Linked DNA regions of Homo sapiens: region 2 is linked to region 1. Evidence: fine-mapped expression QTL. Tissue or cell type: whole blood. Region 1 holds a variant in brackets; the other region holds the start of a gene. All regions are shown on one strand. Distances are from middle to middle.

Region 1 (5,864 bases):
GGCTGGCAGTGACAGCTGGCACTTACTGAGTGTGTGCTACATGAATCCTCTCACTGAGTCTCCACCGCAACCCCAACAGCAGGGACCATTGTTACCGCCATTTTACAGACAAGGAAACTGAGGCTTGGAGGGCTTAAGTAACTTGGCATGAATGGAGTTCAGAGCTCAGATTTGAACTCCGATGTGGCCGGACACGATGGCTCACGCCTGTAATCCCAGCACTTTGGGAGGCCAAGGCAAGAGGATCGTTTGAGCCTAGGAGTTCGGGACCAACCTGGGCAACATAGCAAGACCCTGTCTTTACACAAAATTTAAAAAAAAATTAGCCTGGCATGGCGGTGTGCGCCTGTAGTCCCAGCTACTTGGGAGGGTGAGGTGGGAGGATCACTTGAGCCCAGGAGTTTGAGGCTATAGTGAGCTGTGATCTCACCACTGCACTCCAGCCTGGGTGACAGAGTGAGATCTTGTTCTAAAAAATAAAAATATAAAAAATAAATTTTATTTATTTATTTTATTGTTTTTGAGATGGAATCTTGCTCTGTTGCCCAGGCTGGAGTAGAATGGCATGATCTCTGCCCACTGCAACCTCCTTCGCCTCCTGAGTTCAAGCAGCTCTCCTGCCTCAGCCTCCCGAGTAGCTGGGATTACAGGCATTTGCCACCATGCCTGGTTAATTTTTGTATTTTTAGTAGAAACAGGGTTTCACCATGTTGGCCAGGCTGGTCTCAAACTCCTGACCTCAAATGATCCGCCCACCTCAGCGTCCCAAAGTGCTGGGATTACAGGCGTGAGCCACCGTGCCCGGCCCAAAAATAAATTTTAAAAAAGGGGAAAAGAATGAACCCCAATGTCTTTAATTTCAAATTCTCTTTGTTCTTGCTCATTAGCTATACTGCTTTCCTTTTGGGACAAGGTTTTCACCATTTTGAGCCCCAGTTGCACCATCTCCAAGTTGGGGCTCATGACAGTCCCTGCAAATGAGGTCACGGCTCAGCAGGTGGAAGCACGCTGGCACCGATTGGAAGTTCCAGAAGTGTTATCTGTGTGGCTTTCTCCTTTCCCCTACCCCCAGCCACATCTTAAACAGGAAACACCGGGCTTCCCAAGGTAAGGACCCCAGCACCATGGGAGGGGCCCGTCGCTGTACCAGGCTGAGGGCCTTACATTCAGCCCTGTGACCTGGCCCTGGTCCCTGCCACCACCTCCTCCTGCTCTGGAGCTGGCTTGGTGGTGCCTGTGTCTCAGGCAGCCCTAGGGAGTTGGAGGCAGTGACCTCACCCTTGGAGAATGCCCACTGGAATTCACCCTGAACCTGCTCCTCTGTTCTCCATGCCTCCCAGCCACTTCTGAGCGCACTCTCACGCTTACCTCTGTGGCAGCCAACGGAGCGTCTCCTGGGAGCAAGAACACTCCTGCTAGACAGCTGTTAACTACCAACTGGAGGACAAGCCAGTTCTCCACCTTCAGCCAGCTTGCTGGGTGAGCTTAGGCAAGTAGCTGTCTGTCTCTGGTCTGCCCCCTACCTCAGTGTCCCAGCAAAGAAGTCATCCAGTGTCCAGCCTCTGTGCCGATACCACCAGAGGTGCCTTCTTCGACCTAACACCTGTGGAAGGAGGGACTGATTCCATTTCATACATGTGGAGACAGAAGCCCAGAGAGGTAGTGACCGTGCCTAAGGCCACACCCTGGGAAATGGACTGAGGGTGGCTGACCCCATGCCCTGCTCCTCCTCCTCTGCCACACTGCTGCTCCCAGGAGTGTCAAAGGATCCCTCCTCTCATGCCCAGAGTAGGGACCTTGATCCGCTTTTTTTTTTTTTTAGATGGAATTTTGCTCTTTTCCCCCAGGCTGGAGTGCAGTGGCACAATCTTGGCTCACTGCAAGCTCCACCTCCTGGATTCAAGCGATTGTCCAGCCTCAGCCTCCCGAGTAGCTGGGATTACAGGTGCCCAGCTAATTTTTGTATTTTTAGTAGAGATGGGGTTTCACCATGTTGGCCAGGCTGGTCTCAAAATCCTGACCTCAGGTGATCTACCCACCTCGGCCTCCCAAAGTGCTGGGATTATGGGCACGAGCCACCGTGCCAGGTGGAGCCTCTCTTTTATCCACCTCCCCCAACCCCCACCCCACAAGGAGGCAGGAGATTCCATTTCCTCATGATCCACTCCTGAGGCGGGAATACTCTCTCCAGGCCAAACTGGCTACCTCAGCCAGCAAGCGTCTGTGCGGAGCCCCTCTGGGCCTGCTGGGTGATAGGAACTAGAGCAAGACACAGCCCCTGCCTTCCAGGAGTTCACAGCAAACACATGGACACATCTAAAGTCTAAATGCTACAGGAGAGATGACATTTACCACCATGGTGACAGAGTACAGACTGGCCGCAAGCCCTGAAAAGCAGCACATCTGCAAAAGGAGATTGTCGGGTAAAGCATGGGAAGGAGGTGATGCTTGAGAAAAGTTGTTTTTTGTTTTTGTTTTGAGACAGTCTAACTCTGTTGCACAGGCTGGAGTGCAGTGGTGTGATCTTGGCTCACTGCAACCTCCACCTCCCAGGTTCAAGCAATTCTCCTGCCTCAGCCTCCTGAATAGCTGGGATTGCAGGCACCTGCCACAAGGCCCAGCTAATTTTTGTATTTTTAGTAGAGACAGGGTTTCACCATGTTGGCCAGGCCGGTCTCAAACTCCTAACCTCAAGTGATCCACCCACTTTGGCCTTCCAAAGTGCTGGGATTACAGGTGTGAGCCACCTTGCCGGGCCAAGAAGAGTTTTGAAGAATCGACTGGGACTCGTCCTGAGAGGCAAGTGGTGGGAAGGGTATTCCAGGCAGAAGGGAGAGCGTATGCACAGCACAGAGGCAGGAAAGTCCATGGTCCATCCCAGGAGGAGGCTTTGGTGGGGCCTTGGAGTCACACAGTCCTGGCTCCAGTCACAGCCCTCTCCGTCACTAGCCAAGCCTCAGTTTCCTTCATCTCTGAAATGGGAGGACAGGACCCTCCTCATGGTTATGAGATCGTAAATGTAATGTCAGAACACAATGCAATTACGTGGTAAGCGCCCTATTAAACGCTTCTCTTATTGTGTGTTAGTAATGTGTATTAGTTTGCTAGGCCAGCCATCACAAAATATCACAGACTGGGTGGTTTAAACAACAGATGTTTATTTTTTCACAGTTCTGGGGCTGGAAGTCCAAAATCAAGGTGCTGGCAGGGTTGGTTTCTCCTGAAGCCTCTCTGCTTGGCTTGCGGGTGGCCACCTTCTTGCTGGGTCCTCACATGGATTTTCCTCTGGGCACACACATCCCCCAAGTCTCTCTCTCCTTTTTTTTGTTTTGTTTTGTTTTGAGACGGAGTCTCGCTCTGTCACCTATTACCCAGGCTGGAGCACAGTGGCACAATCTCGGCCCACTGCAACCTCTGCCTCCTGGGTTCAAGCGATTCTCCTGCCTCAGCCTCCTGAGTAGCTGGGACTACAGGCACCTGCCACTACACCTGGCTAATTTTTGTATTTTTAGTAGAGACGGGGTTTCACCATGTTGGCCAGGCTGGTCTC[T/G]AACTCCTGACCTCAGGTGATCCACCTGCCTTGGTCTCCCAAAATGCTGGGATTACAGGCATAAGCCACCATGCCCAGCCCAGTGCCAGTTTATGGAGGGGGACATGGAGGTACAGAGGGCTTTGGGTTATGACTCAAGGTCACACAGCTAGGAAGGAGCAGACAGGATTTAAACCTAGACAGTCTGACTCTGGGGTCCCTGCTCCTCTCCCCATGCCCTCTCCACCCTCCCACACACACAGCAGGAGCTCCCTGCACTCCACAAACACCCTTTTGCATGTCACTCAGCTCCGGTCAAACTGTTAACTTCTCCCCCATTGTCGGATACTAAGGAATTTTTCAGTTAATATTTTTCCATTATAAATGAGGTTGGAACAAACCTGTTTGAACATAAGAGCTTATTTCTTCTTTTGGATTTTATACAAGTGGGATTTCCAGGGCAAAGGGAGCATTTTATTGTCCCCGAGAGCGGGGAAGGAGTGAAACCCGAGCTGGGCCCCGCCTGCACTGCCCACCTGCCGGTTTACTTTGTGGGAGGGGAGGCTCGGCAGTAGGGATGTCCTGAGACTTGGCTCGGCACTGCCCCACCTCCAGCCACCTCTTTGTCTCTGCCGCCTCTGCCTTAGAAAGTTCCGGGCCCCAGCCAGGCACGGTGGCTCACGCCTGTAATCCCAGCACTTTGGGAGGCCGAGGTGAGCAGATCACGAGGTCAGGAGATGGAGACCATCCTGGCTAACACGGTGAAACCCCATCTCTACTAAAAATACAAAAAATTAGCCAGGCGTGGTGGCGGGAGGCTGAGGCAGGAGAATGGCGTGAACCCGGGAGGCGGAGCTTGCAGTAAGCCTAGATCGCGCCACTGTACTCCAGCCTGGGTGACAGAGCAAGACTCTGTCTCCCCAAAAAATCCAAAACAAAACAAAATAAGACAAAGAAAGTTCCAGGCCCCAAATCCTGGTTTTTCTGAGATTCTGAGTTCAAAATAATGGTTCCTATAAGGATATGGTCATTTTTTATTTTATTTTTGAGATGGAGTCTCACTCTGTTACCCAGGCTGGAGTGCAGTGGCAGGATCTCAGCTCACTGCAACCTCCACCTCCCAGGTTCATGTGATTCCCCTACCTCTCAGCCTCCTGAGTAGCTGGGATTACAGGCACCTGCCACCACGCCCGGCTAATTTTTGTATTTTTAGTAGACACAGGGTTTCACCATGTTGGTCAGGCTGGTCTGGAACTCCTGACCTCAGGTGATCCTCCCACCTCGGCCTCCCAAAGTACTGGGATTATAGGTGTGAGCCACTGCGCCCAGCCTGGTTTCCCATATGATTTCCCCTATTAGTAGTTCCCATCTCGAAGGGTCCCTATGATGTTGAGATAGGGAAGGAAGCTAGCAAGTTTGGAGCAGGAGAGGGAAATGGAAGCCCAGAGAGGGCAGGGGCCTTGCCTGGGCTCAGCCAGCAGCGAGAGCAGAGAATCCCAAGGTGGCCCTGAGCTCCCACTACCAGTCCTCGGTTTGCTCTTGACTGAGGCTGGCAGTGAGGTTGAGGGAGAGAAAATTATTTCTCAAAGTGGTGGTTGGGGAGTGACAGGAAGCAGTTCCCTTAGGGAGTCTCTTTCCCAAGGGTCAAATCCCTGGATCTTGGAAAGCTCGTTGTTTCACATCTGCACTTAGTTGCCCGACTGGGGACCCCATGCAGCCTGGGAATGACCGTGAAATGGCTGCCCAGTGGGCAGGGTGTTTGCTCTGCACTTGGCCCTGACCACTGAGCCACAGCCAGGCCGGCTGCAGGGCTGCAGCTCTCAGCCCACAAGAACAGGAGCCCCCGAAGGAGGGGCAGAGGCTCTGCTGGGCCAGGCCCAGGCCCTTTTTGCCCTACTCTGGCCCCACCCCCAGGGGCTGTGGGGAACAGGCAGAGAGGCCAGCTTCCTGGACAGTGGCCTGGGAGGATGAGGCAGGCAGGGAAGGAGCCGGAGCTGCTCGGGCCAGGGTAGCCTGGGAAGATGAAGTTGGTGTTTGGCTAGTGAGGCCAGGGCGCACCCCCACACTCACTCAGGCATGCGCGGCCTCTGGTGCCTCTCCAGAGGATGCATTTCCCAGAACTCAGCTCCCCACAAGTCATGACTTCAGGGCAGGAAGGCCCTCAGGGACCAGCTCCAACTGCCTGAGTTGACAGAGAAGGTCCAGGGCCAGCCAAAGGAAGGGACAGGCCTGAGGTCAGCTGGTGAGTGGCCACGTCAGGAGGGGGTTCTTCAGAAACCCTGGTCGATCACTCCCTTCTCCAGCCGTCGAGGAACCAAACTGTTGGCATTGTGTC
Region 2 (5,552 bases), 69 kb before region 1:
AAAAATTAGGCAGGCGTGGTGGCACACGCCTGTAATCCCAGCTACTTGGGAGGCTGAGGCAGGAGAATTGCTTGAACCCGGGAGGCGGAGGTTGCAGTGAGCTGAGATTGCGCCACTGCACACCAGCCTGGGTGACAGGGCAAGACTCTGTCTCAAAAAAAAAAAAAAAAAAAAAGTGATAGCATTCAAGATGCATTGTGCAAGTAGAATAAAGAGAACATAGTGAAGAACTAAATGTGGGAGGGAAGGAAAAACGAACTACCAGTGATGACTACAAGGCTTTCCACTGGGCACAATTCACCAGACACCATTAACAAAAATTAGGAAAAAAAAAAAATGAGCAGTTGGGAGAGAGCTTATGGAAATAGGTGCTGCTATTAGCATTCTCATTTTTCAGATGAATAAGCAGGTTTAGAGAGGTTGAATAGGCCAGGTGCGGTGGCTCACGCCTGTAATCCCAGCACTTTGAGAGGCTGAGGCGGGTGGATCACAAGGTCAGGAGTTCGAGACCAGCCTGACCAACATGGTGAAACCCCGTCTCTACTAACAGTACAAAAAATTAGCCGGATATGGTGGTGGGCACCTGTAATCCCAGCTACTCGGGAGGCTGGGGCAGATAATTGCTTGAACCTGGGAGGCAGAGGTTGCAGCGAGCCGAGATCTCGCCACTGCACTCCAGCCTGGGCAACAGAGCGAGACTCTGTCTCAAAAAAAAAAAAAAAAAAAAAAAGAGGTTGAATAACCTGTCCAAGTTCACCCAAATGATAAGTGGAATTACTAAGTCCTTTCACACACATTTATTTTCACCCCCACAGCGCCCTCTAATTATCATCTTCAATTTACAAATAAGGAAACAAGGCAAGGAATGTGAAGGCCACACATAGCTATCAAGTGGCAGAGCTGGCTGGGCACAGTGGCTTATGCCTGTAATCCCAACACTTTGGGAGGCCGAGGCGGGGGGATCACAAGGTCAAGGGATTGAGACCATCCCAGCCAACATGGTGAAACCCTGTCTCTACTAAAAATATAAAAATTAGCTGGGCATGGTGGCGCATGCCTGTATTCCCAGCTACTCAGGAGGCTGAGACAGGAGAATCACTTGAACCCAGGAGGTGGACGTTGCAGTGAGCTGAGATCGCGCCACTGCACTCCCGCCTGGCAACAGAGCGACACTCCGTCTCAAAAAAAAAAAAAGAAAAGAAAAGAAAAAAAAAAGAATGTGGCAGAGCCTAGACTTCAGGTATATTTTCTAATAAAGGAGACATACTAGGCGGCTAAGGAAACCTATGTCAGGTAGAAAGGATCTGAGGTTTGAATAAAGTCATGCCCTCAGATTATCTTTCATTGTTTTAAAATTCCGAAAGAAAGACACCAGGAGGAACTCCATAGCCTGGGAGTTGCTGAGAGGACAGCACTGTTATCTACTGTAGTAAAGCAGTTCCTGAGTCGTCACTTCAGAATCACAGCTAATGCGGAGCTCTTGGGCTCCAGCATAAACATATCCGTATAATCTATCAAAATGAGACCCAGAATCTGAATTTTTAAAAATACTATCCTGGTCAGGTGTGGTGGCTCACGCCCGTAATCCCAGCACTTTGGGAGACCGAGACAGGAGGACTGCTTGAGCCCAGGAGTTTGAGACTAGCCTTGGCAACATGATGAGACTTCGTCTCCACAGAAGTTTTTTTTTTTTTTTTTAATTAGCCAGGCAGCCGGACGCAGTGGCTCACGCCTGTAATCCTAGCACTTTGGGAGGCCGAGGTGGGTAGATCACCTGAGGTCAGGAGTTCGAGACCAGCCTGGTCAGCAAGGTGAAACCCCGTCTCTACTAAAAGGAAAATTAGCCGGGCATGTTGGTACACGCCTGCAATCCCAGCTACTCGGGAGACTGAAGCAGGAGAATCACCTGAACCTGGGATGCGGAGGTTGCAGTGAACTGAGATAGCGCCACTGCACTCCACTCCAGCCTGGAAGACAGAGCAAGACTCCGTCTAAAAAAAAAAATTAGCCAGGCATGGTGGCATGCACCTGTAGCCTCAGCTGCTCCGCACGCTGAGGCGAGAGGACCACTTTAGACCAGGAGTTAAAGACCAGCCCGGGCAACATAGTGAGACGCTGTCTCTACAAAATTTTTAAAAATCATTAGCTGGCCGGGTACGGTGACTCATGCCTGTAACCCTAGCCCCAGTGGGTGGACTGTTGAGCTCAGGAGTTTGAGACCAGCCTGAGCAACATAGCAAAACCCCATCTCTACCAAAAATACAAAAATTAGGCAGGCGTGGTTGTGCGTGCCTGTGTACACCAACGACTCGGGAGGCTGAACTGGGAGGATCGCTTGTACCTGAGAAGTCGAGGGTGCAATAAGCCGTGATCCTGCCACTACATTTCAGCCTGGGCGACAGAGCGAAACCCTGTCTCAAAAAATAAATAAAAATAAATAAAAACACTGTTCCAGAAATCCCTGTCCTACAATTAAGTTTGAGAACTGCGGAAGTATGGTTTGAACTCTGGCGGTTAGAACCCTAAACTAACAGTCTGATCTAGGCAGGTCACTTGGCACTTCTGAGCCTCAGTTTCCACAACTATAAAGGCGGAGGAGTAACAATAAGGACCGCCTAAGACACCGACGGACCTCCCCTGCGCTGAGTTTCACATTAAGCAGGCAGGTAGAACAGGCGGGGAGTCGCGGGTGACGGTGGGATACATGGGGGCTGAGGCGCGCCGCGAAGCATTGTGGGACACAGAAGGGCGCCAGTCGCTCCCCGCCTCGAGCTTCGATTGCGCGGCCGCCAAGTTTCAGTGATGAACGCCCTCTTTGGGCGTCCCCGGATACCGCCTGACGTAGTGCCAATCACACCTCTCGCGTCTCGGCGCCTCGGAGGCTAATGAGGACGCCTGGCGAAACGCAGTAACGGATTTCCGGGTGGACCTTCGCTTTACGGCTCGTGAGTTCTTCCGCCCAACCCAGAGGAAGCGGGAGAGCAGTTTACGACAGCGCCGGTCGTGTTTACGGCGGCGCCCGCTGCGCGCGCATGTTTCCTCTTTTCCTGGTTTCTCAAGAGTGCTGCTGCTAACGCGGTCCCCGGCACGCACCATCTGTTGCCATCCCGGCCGGCCGAGGCCATTGCAGGTGAGCGGCGTGTTTCATAGGTTCCTGCGGCCCTCCGGAGCCGGTTCGGACTAGGTCCAGCCTTCGGGGGGCCTCCCGGAAGAGACCTCTCTTAGTCCCTTCCTGCTGTTGCCGTCCCTCCGCTGGGCGGGGCAGGAATCCACTTTCGGGGGCCCCGCGTCCCGCACGCTACTGAACGCGGGACACGACCTTGTGGGTGAGGTCCTTGGCCCTCGGCCCTGCTCAGTGCCCATGAGCTGGGTGAATTTGATTGTCACTTAACTCACCTGGGTTAAGACGGAGGGGTAACAACAAAGTCTTTCTGAAGTGGCCGAAAACTCCCTGACTTTTTGAGTGAGGTCTTAGGGGTACCAGGCTGAGCGGTGTTTGGCCCCTGTTCTTAGGAATTCACAGTGCATAGGTTATCTTTCCTTTTTTGTGAAACTGGAGGCTAGGATAGAGAAGTAGATTTGATCTCTGATCTTAAATCTACCCCACCCCCTGTTCAGCGATGGACGGCTTATGATCTGTAGTGGCCTGCCAACCACAGAGCCCCTTCTGAGTGCCCTCTTGGAACCTCCCTATCCTGCCCCTGTGACTAGTACAGCTGTTACTTCGTTTTTGCTGAGCGGCTCAGTTTCTCCTCCTGGTTCCGCTCTGCTCTTAAAAAAAAAAACATTTATTAAAGCCAGGGTATCTCATCCCTGGCTTTCCAGGGAGGTGATGCAGGTCGAGCCTCGGGCCTCTTCCCTTCTTGAGCTTCTGACAGAACCCGATTTTTTAAAGTGTGTTTTGAGACTCGTTGTCTTGGTATTATGATGTACGGTCTCAAACCCCTGATCTTTGCGGGCTGCTGCCCAGCTGTAATATAATGGAAAGAAGGCTGGACTGACAGCAGGCAACCCTGGAAATCAAATCTGTTTTGAAATGATGAGGTCAGCTGCTTGAGTAGGCTGAGCTTCAAATTTTTGCCTCTAAAGTAGGGGTGGGGGGGTGGTCAATGGTGTTAAATTATCTGGTATAGGGCCTAACACGTAGGAGCTCAGCAATATTTATTTAATACAAATTGTTCTGAGACCACCACCCTTTTTCTTCTGTCCTCTTCCTATAGTTTCTATTAGAAAGATGAAACTTCTAGGTTCATCCTGTGTTGCTGTCACCCAAATGTCATCTCTGAAGGAAGCCTCAATCTCCCCAGCATGGGGCTTTGAGGAGAGTTTACTAAGTTCAGCATACCTGTTCTTTTGATTGCTCTCCAGCCTCCAAGAAACATTTGATTTTTGTTTTTTTGAGACGGAGTCTTGCTCTGTTGCCCAGGCTGGAGTGTAATGGCAGGATCTTGGCTCACTGCAACCTCCGCCTCCTGAGTAGCTGGTATTACAGGTGCCCGCCACCACGCCCAGCTAATTTTTGTATTTTTAGTAGAGACTGGGTTTCACCATGTTGACCAGGCTGGTCTCGAACTGCTGACCTCGTGATCCGCCCACCTCGGCCTCTCAAAGTGCTGGGATTACAGGCGTGAGCCACCGCGCCCGGCCTCCAAGAAATACTTGTGTAGTGAATTTTCCTCTAGGAACTCGCCTTCTAAGCATTTTCAGAAGGTTACAACGGAAGATAAATGCATAGGTTTTTTTATAGAAGTGTCGGGCAGCCATCTGCTATACAGCGCCGGTTTTTTAATTCCCAAGAGGGCTATAGCATTATGCAGAGTGCAGACTCTGGGGTCAGACTGCTTTGGTTCACGTTTTTCATCCACTAGCATTTCAACTTTGGGCAATTTCTTCATTTCTCTGTGCTTTGGTTTTCTTATCTGGAGAGTGCGGATAACATTGGCTCCTACCTCACAGGATTGTTGGCAGGACTGTATGAATGAATGAGTGGTAAACAGTAAGAACAGTGCCTGGCAGTATTCATGAACATTTAACATGGCAACTTTGGGCCTGAGGTCTGTGGGGACCTCCTTGGCCCTCTGGCAGTTCTTCTGCCTGGCTTTATGTCCGCTTGCACTGCACACAGGATTTGCGTTGATGGCAGAAAATTGAAACAATGAGAAAGGAAAATTGAATTTCAGGATATACTTAAAGATCTTTTTTTCTCAGCACTCTATATACATAAATGCACTTTTGCAAGTCTGAATACTTGTGTGGCATTATACAAAGTGCTTAGAACAAGGATCTTGTTTATTTTGCAGATGGAAAAGACTAAGGTGGCTGGACGTGGTGGCTCACGCCTGTAATCCCAGCACTTTGGGAGGTCGAGGCGGGAGGATCATTTGAGGTCAGGAGTTCAAGACTAGCCTGGACAACATGGTGAAACCCTGTCTCCACTAAAAACACAGAAAATAGCCAGGCGGCGCTTGCCTGTAATCCCAGCTACTCAGGAGGCTGAGGCAGGAGAATCGCTTGAACTCGGAAGGCGGAAGTTGCACGCCACTGCACCCCAG

The links. PIP is the estimated chance that this variant, and not a neighbour inherited with it, causes the effect.
Region 2: it holds the start of EIF3D, and the variant in region 1 is fine-mapped to the expression of EIF3D in whole blood (INTERVAL, PIP 0.92).

What each region holds. Positions count from the first base shown.
Region 1 is chr22:36,457,744-36,463,607 of GRCh38, reverse strand. No RefSeq gene overlaps it. Among named protein-coding and RNA genes, the nearest start is that of TXN2, 21 kb to the left of the region's middle. RefSeq lists an enhancer at 1,626-2,158. The variant T/G (reference allele first, on the strand shown) is at 3,551.
Region 2 is chr22:36,526,654-36,532,205 of GRCh38, reverse strand. It overlaps EIF3D (eukaryotic translation initiation factor 3 subunit D), which reads left to right and starts at 3,040. Exons shown (of 15, transcript NM_003753.4): 1 at 3,040-3,130. RefSeq lists enhancers at 2,770-3,169, 3,480-3,529.